2 separate regions of the Homo sapiens genome follow, and region 2 is linked to region 1. The links come from fine-mapping of genetic effects on gene expression. Tissue or cell type: whole blood. Region 1 holds a variant in brackets; the other region holds the start of a gene. All regions are shown on one strand. Distances are between the middles of the regions.

Evidence for each region. PIP is the estimated chance that this variant, and not a neighbour inherited with it, causes the effect.
Region 2: it holds the start of POLR2I, and the variant in region 1 is fine-mapped to the expression of POLR2I in whole blood (INTERVAL, PIP 0.96).

The regions. Positions count from the first base shown.
Region 1 is chr19:36,083,868-36,091,867 of GRCh38, reverse strand. WDR62 (WD repeat domain 62) reads right to left here. Exons shown (of 32, transcript NM_001083961.2): 12 at 7,124-7,215; 13 at 5,056-5,181; 14 at 2,763-2,830; 15 at 2,562-2,683; 16 at 1,348-1,423; 17 at 557-668; 18 at 403-466. Among named protein-coding and RNA genes, the nearest start is that of OVOL3, 23 kb to the left of the region's middle. The variant T/C (reference allele first, on the strand shown) is at 3,462.
Region 2 is chr19:36,110,057-36,118,056 of GRCh38, reverse strand. POLR2I (RNA polymerase II subunit I) reads left to right here and starts at 3,182. Exons shown (of 6, transcript NM_006233.5): 1 at 3,182-3,259; 2 at 3,344-3,398; 3 at 3,645-3,718; 4 at 3,806-3,880; 5 at 3,991-4,042; 6 at 4,240-4,348. The coding sequence starts at 3,201. The coding sequence ends at 4,302. It overlaps OVOL3 (ovo like zinc finger 3), which reads right to left and starts at 6,914. Exons shown (of 4, transcript NM_001302757.2): 1 at 6,761-6,914; 2 at 6,624-6,688; 3 at 5,093-5,297; 4 at 4,346-4,604. The coding sequence starts at 6,854. The coding sequence ends at 4,396. TBCB (tubulin folding cofactor B) reads right to left here and starts at 2,589. Exons shown (of 6, transcript NM_001281.3): 1 at 2,383-2,589; 2 at 1,873-2,016. The coding sequence starts at 2,496. It also overlaps a transcript of WDR62 not described here. RefSeq lists enhancers at 1,859-1,948, 3,539-3,668, 3,687-4,198, 6,055-6,684, 6,685-7,315 and a silencer at 2,259-2,348.

The DNA.
Region 1 (8,000 bases):
CTCTGTCACCAAGGCTGGAATGCACTGGCATGATCTGTGCTCCCTGCAACCTCTACCTACCAGGTTCAAGCCATCTTCCCCCTCCTGAGTAGCTGGGACTAGAGGTGTACATGACCACACCCGGCTAATTTTTTGTAGAGATAGGGTTTTGCTATGTTGCCCAGGCTGGTCTCGAACTCCTGAGCTCAAGTGATCCACCCGCCTCAGCGTCCCAAAGTGCTGGGGTTACAGGCGTGAGCCATCATGCCCAGCTTAGAGCTGGTATTTGAACTCAGGGCTGGGTGTGACACCAAGACTCCCACAATCCAAACTGGGCAGTTTAGAAATGCTCTCTACACAGGCAGGCTGAGTGCAGTGCTCATGGTATCTGAGCCACAACTCTCCCAAAGGTCCATGTCCCACCTGTCTCCAGATACTGTGATCAAGTGATGACAGTCATAGGTGAACTTCATGCTGGTAATAATTTCTGCAAACAAAGCAGAGAGGCTGCACTTGCCTTCGGAGTCAGAGGGTGTGGGCGGGTGGGGAGGCATCCCAAGCAGAGAGGCACACCCACCTGAATGGCCAAACATCTTGGCAATGCACTCGCCCGAGTAAAAGTCAATCACTGAGATGCTTTTGTCAGAGCAGCTGGTGGCCAGGAAGGTGCCTGAGGGGTCCACATGGACCTGCCAGGAAAGGGACCCACATGTCACTCCAGCTGCCTGCTTCTTCCTTATGATGAGGCCTGGGCCCCTCCCTCCCCCGTGCTGCATGCACAGCACATGGGACTCTGGCAGGGCAGGAGCTCCCGCTCCCATTCGACACGTGAAGAAATTAACAACCACCGCAGCAGTAACAACAGTAGCCAGGCCCTGTGCTAAGCACTGAACATGTGCAAACTGAACTCCTCCAGAGAACAAGTCTATGAGACAAGCTGTCTGTGTGCATTTCAAGAGATGATGCTTGCCCAAGGTCACACAGTCAGCCTGAGGCAGAACCTGAACCCATAACTGTCCTAGACCAGAGGCTCTGAGAAGGTCCCCCCTTGTCCTGAGTGACCCGTGGCTGGTGTGGGCAAACCAGGAGGGGAGTTCATGCCTCTGATTCTTCCCACCATACCCTGCTGCCACTCAAAATGGAACCCACTTAGACGCCCCACTTGGGGAAGGGCTCTGTAAATAAAGGAAACACAGCTGGGGTCACCCTCCCCACCCTCTCGCAAGCATCCTTGTTTAACCAGGCCTGAGAAGGTGCTGGGCAGCGCGGTGCACTGAGGAAGGACCAAGGGCACAGGTCTCAGGTGTGGGCCGTCACAATAGGTGGCCCATCAGGGCAGCAGACAGACAGGGGTCTCCAACTCCTCACCTTCAGCAAGGACCCTTCGTCACCCTGGGAGCCCTTGTAGCACTTCTTCTGCTTCCCGTTCACAGTGTTGTAGACTCTGGGGAAGTAGGGGCATGTTGCGGCCAACAGGGCCCCGCCTACCCCACCACCTCATTCTCTGGCTCTTGCTGTCCTCCCCTCCCCTGGAAGCCCCCTGCTACCTCTTGTCCCCATCTGATGCCTAGACTGAAACTGAAACCCCATCTCAAGCTGAGGTTGTCCTGGGGTATCCACTGAGTTAATGTTCATCTCCCCCACACACTGCAAGCTCAGTGCTTGGCACCGCATGAGAAAGAACTGGGAAGGGGTGCAGAGCCTCTTTGCACTGCTTTGCCCTCTGCACACTCACTCTCTGCCTCCCCCTGGCTCGCTCCTCCACATCCTCCCCAGGCTAAGGTGTCTCTTCCTCCAGGAAGTCCTGCTTGATCCGCAGGTGGGGTCAGGTGTCTCCACAGGGCCCCTGGGCTCCCCCATCTCTGACCACTCTGTCACTGTCTGTGGCTGTGAGGTGGCCGTGTCCATTCTACTGGACTGTGAGCTCCATGAAGGAGGGCCTGGGGCTATCCTGGCCACTGCCATGATCCCAGCACCATCCAGCCCAGTTAGGTGCTCAGGGAATACGGGTGAATGAGGGAGTTTATGTGCCACATCAGCACCTTAGTCATCCCACACCGGCTCTAGGGAGAGCCAGAAGAAAGCCCTCTGCTGACCTGGAGGCCAGGCTTGGGAGAGCCCAGCTTCTAAGAAATACCTGCTGGTGGCCGGGCACGGTGGCTCACGCCTGTAATCCCAGCACTTTGGGAGGCTGAGGTGGGCAATATCACCTGAGGTCAGGAGTTCGAGACCAGCCTGGCCAACATGGCGAAACCTCGTCTCTACTAAAAATACAAAAAATTAGCTAGGCATGGTGGCAGGCGCCTGTAATTCCAGCTACTTGGGAGGCTGAGGCAGGAGAATCACTTGAACCCAGGAGGTGGAGGTTGCAGTGAGCTAAAATGGTGCCACTGCACTCTAGCATGGGCAACAGAGCAAGACTCTGCCTCAAAAACAAAAACAAAAAAAAACCAAGAAGGAACACCTGCTGGGTCCCTCAATTCCTTCCCAGCTTCTTGGGGACCAGAGGAACAGAGGGAGGAAAGCAGACAGCCTAGGACAAGGCAGACCAGGCCAGCTAAGGGTCCAGGGCCACCCCTTACCTCACATTGCGGTCCTGGCAGGCCACGGCCACGTACTTCTGGGTGATGTCAATGTCCATGTCATACAAGGTGGTTTTCTCTGCTACGTGGTGGGTACGGACAAAGTGTAGTCCATCCGAACCCTGGCAGGGCCGGCAGGACCTTCAGAGAATGCCCCGACAACCCCCCACCCCAGCCCCCAAGGAGGCCATGCCACCCTACCTGCTGGGCACTGCGAAAGTAGATGCTCTTGTCAGCCCCACAGCTGATCATCTGGATGTCTCTGTTGCCTAGGGGAGGAGGACGCTGTGTGTTAGGCAGGGCTGGGCCACATGGGCAGGGGACCCTAGCTGGGGAACTCCACTGCAAGAGCCATCAATCAACTGTGCTGGGATCAAGGCTTCCTAAAGGTGGTGAGGTGGGTGCTGGGTCTGGGTGGGACTCTGTAAGGTATGAGCTGTACGTGTGAGGGGGCACAGGTGGAGCTGTGGCCAAGGCAGGCTCTGCAGAGCAAGGGCATATAGAGAAACAAAGGCTGGGGACAAAGAAGGGACACCCTCTCCAGTCTGGGATTGAGATAGGTGACTTGAGTAGCGGAGTAGAGGCAGGACTGCAGCAGCGACCAGTGGAGACAGGCTGGGAGGCTCGTGCCATCAGGATCAACTGCAAGATCCACATGAGCCTTGGGCCAGGCCCCATGCATGTAGCGGGTCTTCCTGAATGCTCACCACCCATCCCACTGGACAAGCATGAACACAGAGGTTCACAGAGTCCTTGTCCCAAGGCACACAGAGAGGACAGGGGCAGGACTGAACCCAGGCATTCTCTGGTGCCAAGGTCAAAGCTGTTAAACACTGCTCTGAACCTGGGCCTCCCCTTTGAGCCTCAACTTCCGGTCCGTACAATGGGCATGGTGACAGT[T/C]CCTTCTCTGGAGAGTGATGTGAAGCCCTTGGAACAGGGACTGCCACATGGTAAGCATTAGAAACATTCTTGCTTTTATTATTCTCATTTCTTTTTTTTTGAGACAGAGTTTCGCTCTTGTTGCCCAGGCTGGAGTGCAATGGCGTGAGATGCCCCCGGCCGTCTCATTTCTTTACAGAATAACAGTTTGGTGAGGATGAAATGACAGAACAAATATAAAACTCTGAGTCTGGGCACATCACACATGCTCCTTCATGACAGGACATTTGAGAGGGTCCAGGCCTGACATACAAGTATTAGATGTTGCTCAAGGAGGAGTCATTGGCTCACAGAAGGGAGTGAGCCCCATATAAGGGAGGAAGGGTAACCTGGGAGGGACCCAGAGAAGGCCTGCAAGCCTCTGGTAATGTTCTGCTTCTTAACCTGCACGTGGTGAATCCAAGTACCGTATTTAACAATATTACGACCATGAGCAATTAGAACAGTCTCTGCTATCAACAACGTCCTAGTTCAAACCTTGCTCCTAAGAACTGTGGATACTCACTTCGGCCACCACGCCCAGCTTATTTTTTATTTTTATTTTTTTTGAGATGGAGTTTTGCTCTTGTTACCCAGACTGGAGTGCAGTGAAACAATTTTGGCTCACTGCAACCTTGGCCTCCTGGATTCAAGCTATTCTCCTGCCTCAGCCTCCCAAGTAGCTGGGATTACAGGTGTGCACCACCATGCCCGGTTACTTTTTTTGAATTTTTAGTAGAGACGGGGTTTCACTATGTTGGCCAGGCTGGTCTTAAACTCCTAGCTTCAGGTGATCTGCCTGCCTCAGCCTCCCAAAGTGCTGGGATGACAAGCATGAGCCACCACGCCCGGCCTATATTCTTCTTTTTTTTTTTTTTGAGACAAAGTCTCGCATTGTCACCCAAGCTGGAGTGGAGTCACTGGCGCAATCTTGGCTCACTGCAACCTCCGCCTCCCGGGTTCACACAATTCTCCTGCCTCAGCCTCCCGAGTAGCTGGGATTACAGGTGCACACCACCATGCCTGGCTAATTTTTTTGTATTTTTAGTAGAGATGGGGTTTCACTATGTTGGCCAGACTGGTCTCGAACTCCTGACCTCATGATCTACCTGCCTTGGCCTCCCAAAGTGCTGAGATTACAGGTGTGAGCCATGGTACCTGGCCATTATTCTTTTTTTTTTGAGACAGGGTCTCACTCTGTTGCCTAGGCTGGAGTGCAGCCTCCACCTCCCAGGTTCAAGCAATTCTCCCACCTCGGCCTCCTGAGTAGCTGGGATTACAGAAACAACACCCCGCCCAGCAAATTTTTGTATTTTTAGTAGAGACGGGGTTTCACCATGTTGTCTAGGAAGGTCCCGAACTCCTGACCTCAGGTGATCCACCCTCCTTGGCCTCCCAAAGTGTTGGGATTACAGGTGTGAGCCATTACACCCGGCCCCAGTCATTATTCTGTATACTGTACACAGATACTGTATTCACTTGTTTGGATATATATTTTACAGGAGAGTTGAAAGAATGAATCCTTTTTTAGCAGGGTAGCTAGCAAGGCGCAGGGAGCGGGAAGAAAGGGGCTCACCAGCGAACTTGATGGCGGTGATGGAGGAGGAGTGGTCATCCAGCGTCTGCTCCAGGTTGTAGTTCTTCTCCACGTTCAGCACATGGATCAGCCGGTCCCGACTGGCTGAGGCCAGCAAGGTCAGCCCTGTGAGAGGAGAGAATGAGACTGGTTCCTGAAGGCTGCGTGGGTGCCCTGGCCTCCCAGAAGGGCAGTGTGACCAAGCTGCCCAGTCCTCGGAGAAGGGGTCTTTGGTTCTTCAACTGTAGCCAACTTGGCCCAAGCCTGGCAAGGGCCACTCCCTTAGCTCTGTGTGGTCTTTCCCAGAGCCCCCACACCCTGGCATTTCACCTCCTCACCACCAGCTCAGGGAGGATGAGTCTCGATGGGCGCATGGACGCTCCTCCAGGGACATCCACAGCAGACGCCCCAGCAGAGCCCAGCGCTCTTGCCTGCTGGGTCTGTGCTGGGTAAAGCCCTGGCAACCTCTCAGCCTCTTCCAAAACCAGTGTCCTCTCACCCTCTGAGGTCTGGCTACCTGGGCCTTGTTCAGGTCCTATTGACTGCCTGTGGCCAGACTCCCATCTGCCACCAGCCTTCCCTACTCTGGTCACTTGCTATGTCTGAGGCCTAATAACATGACCTGAGGCAGAGGGGAGATCAGGAGAGGCGAACCGAGTGAAGATATGTTTCAAGACAAGTTGGTGGGGCACACAGCATGGGGGATGAGAGAACGAAAGAAGAACATGGGGAAAATCACATCAGGATATAACTCCACCAACTCTGTAACTCCCAAAGTGCTGGGATTACAGGCATGAGCCACCGTGCCCAGCCTAGAAAACATCTTGAGGAGCCGGGCATGGTGGTTCACGCTTGTAATCCCAGCATTTTGGGAGGCCAAGGCGGGTGGATCACCTGACGTCAGGAGTTTGAGACCAGCATCGTGCAATACCTTCTATGCTAAAAATAAACAAGAAAAAGGACACAAAATGCTACCATATATCATCCATATATCATCTGGGTGACAGAGCAAGACTCTGTCTTGAAACAAACGAAATCTTCACTTGGAAATCTTCTCCTATCTCATGATCTCATCTGATGGCCCAGAAGGAATTTTCTGTTGTTTTAATGAAGAGGACCATGAGGTCTGGAGACCCTACTATGGTCCTAGCCTTCAGCCTAGGCTAACATGGTGAAACCCCGTCTGTACTAAAAATACAAAAATTAGCCGGGTGTGGTGGGGGCGTGCCTGTAATCCCAGCTACTCTCGAGAGGCTGAGGCAGGAGAATCGCTTGAACGCAGGGGAATCGCTTCAACCTGGGAGGCGGAAGTTGCAGTGAACTGAGATCGCGTCATTGCCCTCCGGCCAGGGCGACAGAGTGAGACTCTTGTCTCAAAAAAAAAAAAAAAAAAAAAAAGGTCAGGTGTGGTGGCTCATGCCCTAATCCCAGCGCTTTGGGAGGCCAAGGCGGGCGGATCACCTGAGGTCAGGAGTTTGAGACCAACCTGGCCAACATGGTGAAACCCCATCTCTACTAAAAATACAAAAATTGGCCAGGCATGGCAGCAGGCACCTGTAATCCCAGCTACATGGGAGACTGAGGCACGAGAATCACTTGAACCAGAGAGGTGGAGGCTGCAGTCAGCAGAGATGGTGCCACTCCCCTCTAGCCTGGGTGACAGCAAGACTCCATCTCAAAAAAAAAATTGAGGAATTTGGGTGAAGCCTATGGGGTGTTCATTATAATATTCTCCCAATATTTCTATAGGCTTCAAACTTTTTGAAAATAATGCCTAACAATCAATCTATCTTCTCATTCACAATTCACTCATTCATACATCCACCCCTTTGGCTTGGGTGCTGGCACCAGCAGCGGGCAAGTCAAGCTGAGTCCTGCCTGCGGGTGTCTTGCTTTCTGAAGTCCCAGCCACTCTGGTCTCAGGGTCCAGCTACAGGGGCCCTTACCGAACACAAAACTCCCAGCTGTCATCCACAGTCCCACCAGACACCAACTACCCCTTTCTGTGGCCCTGCCAGGGGGGCTGCCTCCCTGCCTGACCCCCATTCCACCCCTGCTGCGGGCTCACCCGTCTCTGGCTTGGAGTACTCCAGGCACAGCACCTCAGCATCATGGGCCTCCACCTTGACCAGCTCGTCCATGAAGTGCAGCTCGTGGATCCTGGGAGACACACACCGCCCGCTGAAGCCCCACACCCCAGCCCCATGTGCTCTACCACTTCTAGAATAGGTCAGAATGGCCAGGCCACCAACAATGAGAACCCCTTATCATGGCCAAATACTCTAGACATGCACAACCACTTTTCTCATTTAGAAACCTGCCATCGTAAAGGGAGCCGTGTTGAACCAGGGAGCACCTCAGCAGGCAGCAGCCCCTTGTGGTGCCTGGGCCAGAACAGAGCCCCAGGGATCTAGGACAGTCTTCTAGGGGGGCAGGTGTTTACGTAGGGCTGCATCAGAGGTGGTCCCTGGGGTAGGACAGGGGCCAGGGGCTAGGGGCCAGAGGTCATAGTCCAGGATAGGAGCTATGGATGAGAACATTTGATTCCAGTCTCTCATTGTTAAAAGAGTCTCAAATCTAGACCTTCCTGATTCTCCCCAAATGAAATCAGTCATCGAGTCATCCCAGCTTCTTCATTCTACCCGTGTGATCTTACTCCAGACACCTTGTGCCAATAACATCACTTACATCAGGGGTCAGTGAGAGGATTAAATCAGTCAACACAGTGCTCAGGCCAGCGCCCACCAAGGGGGAAGAGCACTATCCCCATGTTGGCTCTTGGTACCGTTTTGCCACTCCAGACAGTGCCATGTCAATGTAAGCAGCTCACTGACACACTGAGCTGGTCTCATACAGTGACTGATATCAAAACAGGTGCCAATATTTAAAAATTATCGAATTTCACAGAAAAAAATCGGCACTTTCTGCTCTTCTTGACAACAGGA
Region 2 (8,000 bases), 26 kb before region 1:
CGGTGGCTCATGCCTGTAATCCCAGCACTTTGGGAGGCCGAGGTGGGCGGATTACCTGAGGTCAGGAGTTCGAGACCAGTCTGACTAACATGGTGAAACCCCGTCTCTACTAAAAATACAAAAATTACCCTGGTGTAGTGGCGGGCATCTGTAATCCCACCTACTCGGGAGGCTGAGGCAGGAGAATCGCTTGAACCGGGGAGGCGGAGGTTGCAGTGAGCCGAGATCATGCCACTGCACGCCAGCCTGGGAGACAGAGCAAGACTCTGTCTCAAAAAAAATAAAAAATAAATAAATAAACTCCACCCTGAAGCTAAATTTTCTCTTCTGCAAAATGGGGATAATTACATTATCCTTGTGGTCTTACTTTATGGATTCAATTCATCATTCAACAATGATTCACAGGGCTGGGCGTGGTGGCTCATGCCTGTAATCCCAGCACTTTGCGAGGCTGAGGTGGGCAGATCACTTGAGGTCAGGAGTTCAAGACCAGCCTGGCCAACATGGTGAAACCCCAACTCTACTTAAAATACAAAATTACAAAATTAGCCAGGCGTGGTGGTGCACACCTGTAATCCCAGCTACTTGGGAGGCTGAGGCAGGAGAATAGCTTGAACCCAGGAGACAGAGGTTGCAGTGAGCTGAGATCACACCACTGCATTCCGGCCTGGGGAACAAGGGCAAAACTCTGTCTCGAACAAAACAAAACAAAAAACGATTCACGGACTATCCTCCCTGTCCCAGGCACTATTCCAAGTACTGGGGACACAGTAGTGAATTATAGTGATCAAAATTTCCACCCTCAGGGCACTCGAATCCAGGGAGACAGAGAGTAAATAAACCAGATGAGAGAAATCCAGAGTGTGTCAGAGGAGAATTACTTGTAAACACAAAAATCTAAAATAAAGCAAAGAAGGGGAAAGGAATGAGGTAAACGTTAACACTGAGGCCGGTGAAGACTTCACTAGAATACTGACACTTTAAATTAAGACAGGAAGGAAGGGTGAGGCACGCAGGCATATGACAAAAGAACCATTCAGGCCCAGGATCCAGAGGCCGAGCTCACCTGGACTGTGCAAGGAGCAATGTGGCTGCTACAGACTGAGTGAGGTCGGGAGGGAATAAGGACAGAAAGGGGCTGGGCTTGGTGGCTCACGCCTGTAATCCCAGCACTTTAGTAGGCCAAGGTGAGCTGATCACTTGAGGTCAGGAGTTCCAGACCAGCCTGGCCAACATGGCAAAAACCCATCTCTACTAAAAATACAAAAATTAGCTGGGTGGGCACCTGTAATCCCAGCTACTCGGGAGGCTGGGGCACAAGGATCACTTGAACCCAGGAGGTGAAGGCTGCAGTGAGCCCGATAGTGCCACTGCACTCCATTCCAGGTTGGGTGACAGAGTGAGACTCTGTCTCAAAAAAAGACAGAAAGGATGTACTGAGTGGATGCACAAAGAGATCCTGTGTTCTGGTTTCTCCCAAGCTGTCCAGCCTGGTCGCTCACTGTGACCTACCTCACATTCTAGGCCTCTGTACACCCTGCTCCCTCCTTTCCACCTCTTTCTCTTAAGTCACCCTTTCCTCATCCCTCAGCTCAGACATCCCTTCCTCCAGGAAGCCCTCTCTGATTCTCCCAGGTGGAGTCAGGCACCTCTTCTTGGTGGCTCCAGTCCCCTGGGATTTCCTGATCCCAGCCCAGACCACTCTAGGCTGTCCCTGTCTAATGATGGGTCTGTCTCTCGTCAGGCTGCACTGGAGGCTCCACGAAGGCAGGACCTATCTCGGGTATGACTGAGGGCAAAGCCCAGCAAGTGTCTGTTGAATAACCAAATGAAAGGTGGGGTGGGGGAGTGTCCCAGATAGAGAGTCCTCACGTGGATGCGGCAGCCGTCATCTACAGGGTAGGAGCCCAGGAGCGCATCCTCTTGATCCAGCTTGCTGTAGAACTTGTCGTCAACTCCATACAGCTCCAGTTCCATGCAGGAAGCAGGGCTGCCCACCAGCAACTCCAGTTTACACTGTGAGGAGGAGGCAGGGTGAGAAGAAGGAGGCCACGGAGGCCCCGCCCCTTGCATCAATGACCATCGCCACGTCCCTTTTCCTCCAAAAGACCCCCCAGTCAGGACGCACGGGGCCGCAATCCAGCCCCTCGCCTCTTGCCCCCGCCCTCTGGACCGTCGGATTTTTCGCTGGACCCGGCCCTCATCTCTGCACTCTCGAGTTCTCTCCGGACCCGCCCCGCCGCGACCGGGTCCCCAGCCTCCGCAGCCTGGGATCACCTCCGGGCCCGCCCAGTCACTCCCCGGCCCCTCCCAGCCTCCCCCTTCCGGGAACCCCCCAATTTCTTCGCCCCGCCCCTCCGGACCCCGCCCCCATGGCCACACCTTGAACTCAGCGATGGTGAGGCTGCGGCTGTATCGCTTCTCGGAGCGGAAGGTGTTGAGGGAGCTGCTGATGAAAACGGTCACCGTGGGTGCCGACACCCCCGTCACCTCCATCTTGCCGCGCCCTGCGGATGCCTGCAGCGCGGTCCAGCCGCCTCACACCCGCTCCGCAGCCGCCGCCGCCGCTGCTGCTGCTGGGCTATCAGCCCCGCCTCCTGCTCCGTGCCTGACCAATCCGCGCTCTCCTGCCAGGAGCGTCCGCCAATCGCCGCCGTCCCTTCCCCACCGCCAGGAAGAGGGCTCTCCTTACTCTTGGGCCAGCCCAGCCAATCCAGAGGGGCCTTCCATAGTTCACGGTTCTTCCAATAGCGGCCCGGGAAAGGACCAGAACAGGCGGCGAAGACTGAAGCCCGGAGGTAGGAGTGGCAAGAGCTCGCCCAGTCCGCGAAGGGTAAACTCGCGCATGCGCACTGGCCTTCAACCAAGCCAAGCGCCTTGGCTTCTGTCCTGGATGCTCAGTGTTTTGCGGTTTACGATGCGCATCGTTTTCCCGGCTCTGGCACCAGATCCATACTATTCTGTAAACTGAGGCGGCGATGCCCAAAAATTGGAAGCAATTACTCTAAGATATCAAAAGATTGAAGCAAGCCATGAAACCTCTGCGCGGAGAGAGCCGAGCCCGAGGCGGCGGGGAGCCAGCACGTGTGCGCAGCTCCGCCCTCTTTTGGCGAAGCACCTAGGCCTGGCCCCTCCCGCGACCTGTAGCGCGGCGGAGCAAGCGCGGAAGGCTGGGAGGGCTGCGCGGGCTGCGCGTCGCCATGGAGCCCGACGGGACTTACGAGCCGGGCTTCGTGGGTATTCGCTTCTGCCAGGAATGGTGAGGCGGAGGGAGCGGGTGATGTTAGAAGGCGGGCGAGGAATGGCTCCAGAACTAACCCCTGGCACCTCCCCCTCCCCACAGTAACAACATGCTGTACCCCAAGGAAGACAAGGAGAACCGCATTCTGCTCTACGCGGTGAGCGCCGGGGTCTTCCCCGGCAGGTCCACCTGTTCCCAGCGTGGCCCCGCCCTGCCCCCTGCCTCTGTGATCGGACTCCCTGTTCGCCCTCCGCTGCACCTCAAGTGATCCTGACTCTCATGTCCTGCCCATCCCCAAAGAGAGTCCTGTCGTCATATCCTCCGGGATCACCCTGCCCTCTCCTCCCAATCTTGTCTGGAATCCTTCCGTGACCCCCTTTCCCCCACACTCGCCCTCTCGTAGTGCCGGAACTGTGATTACCAGCAGGAGGCCGACAACAGCTGCATCTATGTCAACAAGATCACGCACGAAGTGGAGTGAGTGGCGGGCCCTGAGCTGGGGGCGGGGGTGTTGGCTCTGGAGGCTGGGTCTGAGCGTAATTTTGCACCCCCGCGTCCCTGCAGCGAACTGACCCAGATTATCGCCGACGTGTCCCAGGACCCCACGTTGCCGCGGACCGAGGACCACCCGTGCCAAAAGTGAGCGTTCAGCTGGTACTGGGGAGGTAAAGTGAGGCTCGTCTCCTCACTGGGCGAAGGGAGGAGGGAAGGGTGTGAAGCCTCCGGTGACCGAGCCCCTACCCTCTCAGGTGCGGCCACAAGGAGGCTGTGTTCTTCCAGTCACACAGTGCGCGGGCCGAGGTAAGTGGCGCGAGGGCTTTCTAAGTATCTGGGGCTTGTTTGGTCCTTTCTGGGGGCGGGGATATCAATGTGGGTGACCCTGCGCTTCTTGGAACTCTGCCGGGCCCTTACCTATTGGTGAAGTTCTCTTGCCTGTTCTTTTGGGGTAAGGCGCTGCTGGGTCCAAATCCTTCCTAACCATGCATCATTTCTGCCAGGACGCCATGCGCCTTTACTACGTGTGCACAGCCCCACACTGCGGCCACCGCTGGACCGAGTGACCTCCTCTCTCCCCCGAGTGTAATAAACACCAGATTCCATGCGTGAGTTTTCTGTGTTTATTTGCCTCGTGGGGAGGACGCTGGCACACCGTATCAGGCTGCGCGGTGCAGGGCGCGGTGCTGTGCGTAGGTGTCGGGCCGGGAGCTGGTGAAGCCGCAGTCCTCGCACACGTGCAGCTTCTCGCGGCGCTCACGGTAAGCGTAGCTGGCCGGCTGTCCATGCACCTTAGCAAGGTGAGCTTCCAGGGAGCAGCGCTGCGTAAACGCTTTCCCGCAAGCACTGCAGCGGAAGGGCCGGATCCCTGCACAGATGGGCGCAGAGGGGAGGGCTGGACAGAGAGGGCAATGGGCTCTGGACTAAAGCGCCCCCACCCTGCTTTCCAGTGTTGAGCATTTCTGGTACCTATTCCAAGCTCTTCAGACTCTTCCGCCCATGACCCACCATCTGCTACCGTCACCCAGTGCAGACATGGGCCAGACACCTGTGTCTCCACTCTCCCTCACCAGGATGCTCCCTCCCCTGGGGGATGGAGAGGGAGGCCTTCCCTTGCCTTTCGATCTGGAGCCTGAATCGTATAACCGGCATCCGTCTGCACTCTGCATTCCGTGACAGGCCCCTATTTTGGTGCCACCTTACACCCACCCACTGGGGTCCGAGAGACATCATGTCTTGATTCTCCATACCCCACATACACAAACCATGGACACTCCACAGCCCAGCACCTCTCTCCATTTCCTTCCATCCCCACCTGGGGCCCAGCAACTTTTCCCTGTCCCTGCCACTGCTCACCAGTGTGAGTCCTCATGTGGCGCTTGAGATCGAAGGCGTCATGAAAGCCCTTGCCACAACAGCGGCACAGGTGGCGGCGCACGGGGCTGTGGCACTTGAGGTGCCTTGTCAGCATGCGCTGCAGAGGGAAGGCCTTAGGGCAGAGCGGGCAGCCCAGCGTCCCAGGGCCCCTGGGAGCAGAGGTCAGGTTGCCCTGTGTGGGCTGCTGGAGGGATGCAGGAGTTATTAGCCTCTCTGGCTGGACCCCATCCACCCTTTGTTACTCTGCAAATGAGTATTTACAGAGTGTCCTGAGCCACCACGGAGGATTAGGAAGGCAGGTGGGAGACAGTGATTAGTGTGTGTGCCTGTCACTCTCCAGGGCCTTCCCTCACTATCCCATGGTCCTTACTTTCTCTATGCCAAGTCCCATCTTCTGATGTGACATACACATTTTTTTTTTTTAAAGACAGAGTCTTGCTCTGTCGCCCAGGCAGGAGTGAAGTGGTATGATGTCAGGTCACTGCAACCTCCGCCTCCCGGGTTCAAGCGATTCTAGTGCCTCAGCCTCCCCACGATTACACGATTGTAGGCATGCGCCACATGCCCAGTTAATTTTTTTATTTTTTGTAGAGATGGGGTTTCACCATGTTGGCCAGGCTGGTCTTGAATTCCTGACCTCAAGCAATCCACCCACCTTGGCCTCACAAAGTGCTGGGATTACAGGCATGAGCCACTATGCCCGGTCTATTTTTCTAATTTTATTGTTTTTTTTGAGGGGGGATGGAGTCTAGATCTGTTTCCCAGGCTGGAGTGCAGTGGCGCAGACTCGGCTCACTGCATCCTCTGCCCTGCCTCCTAGGTTCAACTGATTCTCCTGCCTCAGCCTCCTGAGGAGCTGGGATTACAGGCACGTGCCACCATGTCTGGCTAATGTTTGTAATTTTAGTAGAGACAAGGTTTCAACATGTTGGCCAGCCTGGTCTCGAACTCATGACCTCAAGTGATTCACCCGCCTCGGCCTCCCAAAGTGCTGGAATTACAGGCTGACTAATTTTATTGTCTATACATGCAGCCCCAACCAGAATATAAGCTCCATAAAATTGTGGATTTTTGTCTTATTCCCGCTGAATATAACAGCCCATGCCTAGAACAGTGCCTTGCTTTCATGAATATATTACATTCCGGCTGGCGCTTTCCTTCCTCCAATGCATGCACAGCTGAAAAAGCCCTTATCTCCCATCGCACTCCTGTTGCCTTGTCCCATGTTCTGACATAAAGCGGATCATCCACATGTGGGGATGAATCTTGTGCCCCGCTGGAAGAGATCCCTGTGGCTGCCGGCCCTGGTGCCTGGGGTGAGACCTAACAGTAGAGAGCTCACTACTAGGAAAGGAGAGGCATTCCCAACACAGAGAAGTAGGGGCGGACAGGTCCCGAGGCTGGAGGGCGTGTGCAGATGGGTCGGGGGAGCAAGGGGCTGTCAGCTTCATTAAGGCTGAGAGCAGGCAGGAGCGAAACAGCTGGCTTTGCTAGCCAGTTACACACTCACCGCTGTCCACGGATCCCTGACACTGGACGACTGTTGTGCCGGTGGCCCCCCCAGGCTGCTGCAGTCTGAGGAGAAAAGCCAGATGGTGACACTGCGTCTCTCCTGCCCCTTACCTCCAGGCACAGTGAGGGGCCCACCTGGGATATAGGCATCTCCCCGGAGCTGGTCAGGCAGATGGCCCCAGTTGGGGGGCTGTGGACGCCGACTCCTGACCAGGAAGGCGCGGGGCATGCCCTCCGGAAGGCTCTCCACACACAGGGGCTGCTTCCACCTGCTGTCAGACCTCAGCCCCAGGATGACTATCCCTGGTGGGAAAGGAGGGGAAGCCTCTGAGGAACCTCATTCTCTTCATGCAAATTTCCTGGCTGGCCCTGGGAGTGGACTAAGCTGGCTCAGGTTACCCCTGCCTGGGGACCTGCCCATCTTCTCCCAGGTTTTGGAGGGAACCATCCAGCCTCCAGGGGTGGACAAGCACTAGGACCACCAAGCAGAGCCAGGCAAGGGGAGATGGGCCTGGGGAGCTTTTGAGGATAGGAAGAAGAAACAAGGCCCCAGGGGGACTGTCTCCCAGGGGTTGAGGGTCTGTTTGCCAGGCAAATCAGTCACCAGGGGACATCCAGCAGCCTGCCTGGTTATTCAAATCACAGCAGCTGTCTGAGGACACTGAAGGGGCCCCCTGCTGTGATTGCCCTGCTCTGTAGGGTGCAGGGAGGACAGCAGATCTGGATAAATCAGGGCAAAATGAGGATCCAGGCTGTGCATCCTCAGGTAGGATGCCCCACCTCTCTGATCTTCAGATTCCCAGGGCTAACATTCAGCCAGAAGCACTGTTCAGGTGTAGCAGGCACTAAAATACTAGTTTGTTAATAATCTAGCCCCTAGTTACTGCCTGGGACAACACTCTTCCTCCCTCCCACAGTCTGGAAAGTAAAAGGGGGTCTCCTATTTTTTTTTCTTTTTTTGAGACGGAGTTTCACTCTTGTTGCCCAGGCTGGAGTGCAGTGGCACCATCTTGGCTCACTGGAACCTCCACCTCCCGGGTTCAAACGATTCTCCTGCCTCAGCCTCCTGAGTAGCTGGGACTACAGGCATGCACCACCACACCGGGCTAATTTTTGTATTTTTGGTAGAGACAGAGTTTCACCATGTTGGCCAGGCTAGTCTTGAACTCCTGACGTCAAGTGATCCGCCTGCCTTGGCCTCCCAAAGTGCTGGGATTACAGGCATGAGCCACCGCACCTGGCCCAAAGGGGGTCTCTTGACACAGCCAGGGGCTCCCAGGACCCTACCCCGGCACACTGGCCAAGCTGTTTTACACTTGATTCTTAGCCAGAAGACTAAGAAGCAATCCAAGCTCTGTTTTTTAATTTTTTTTTT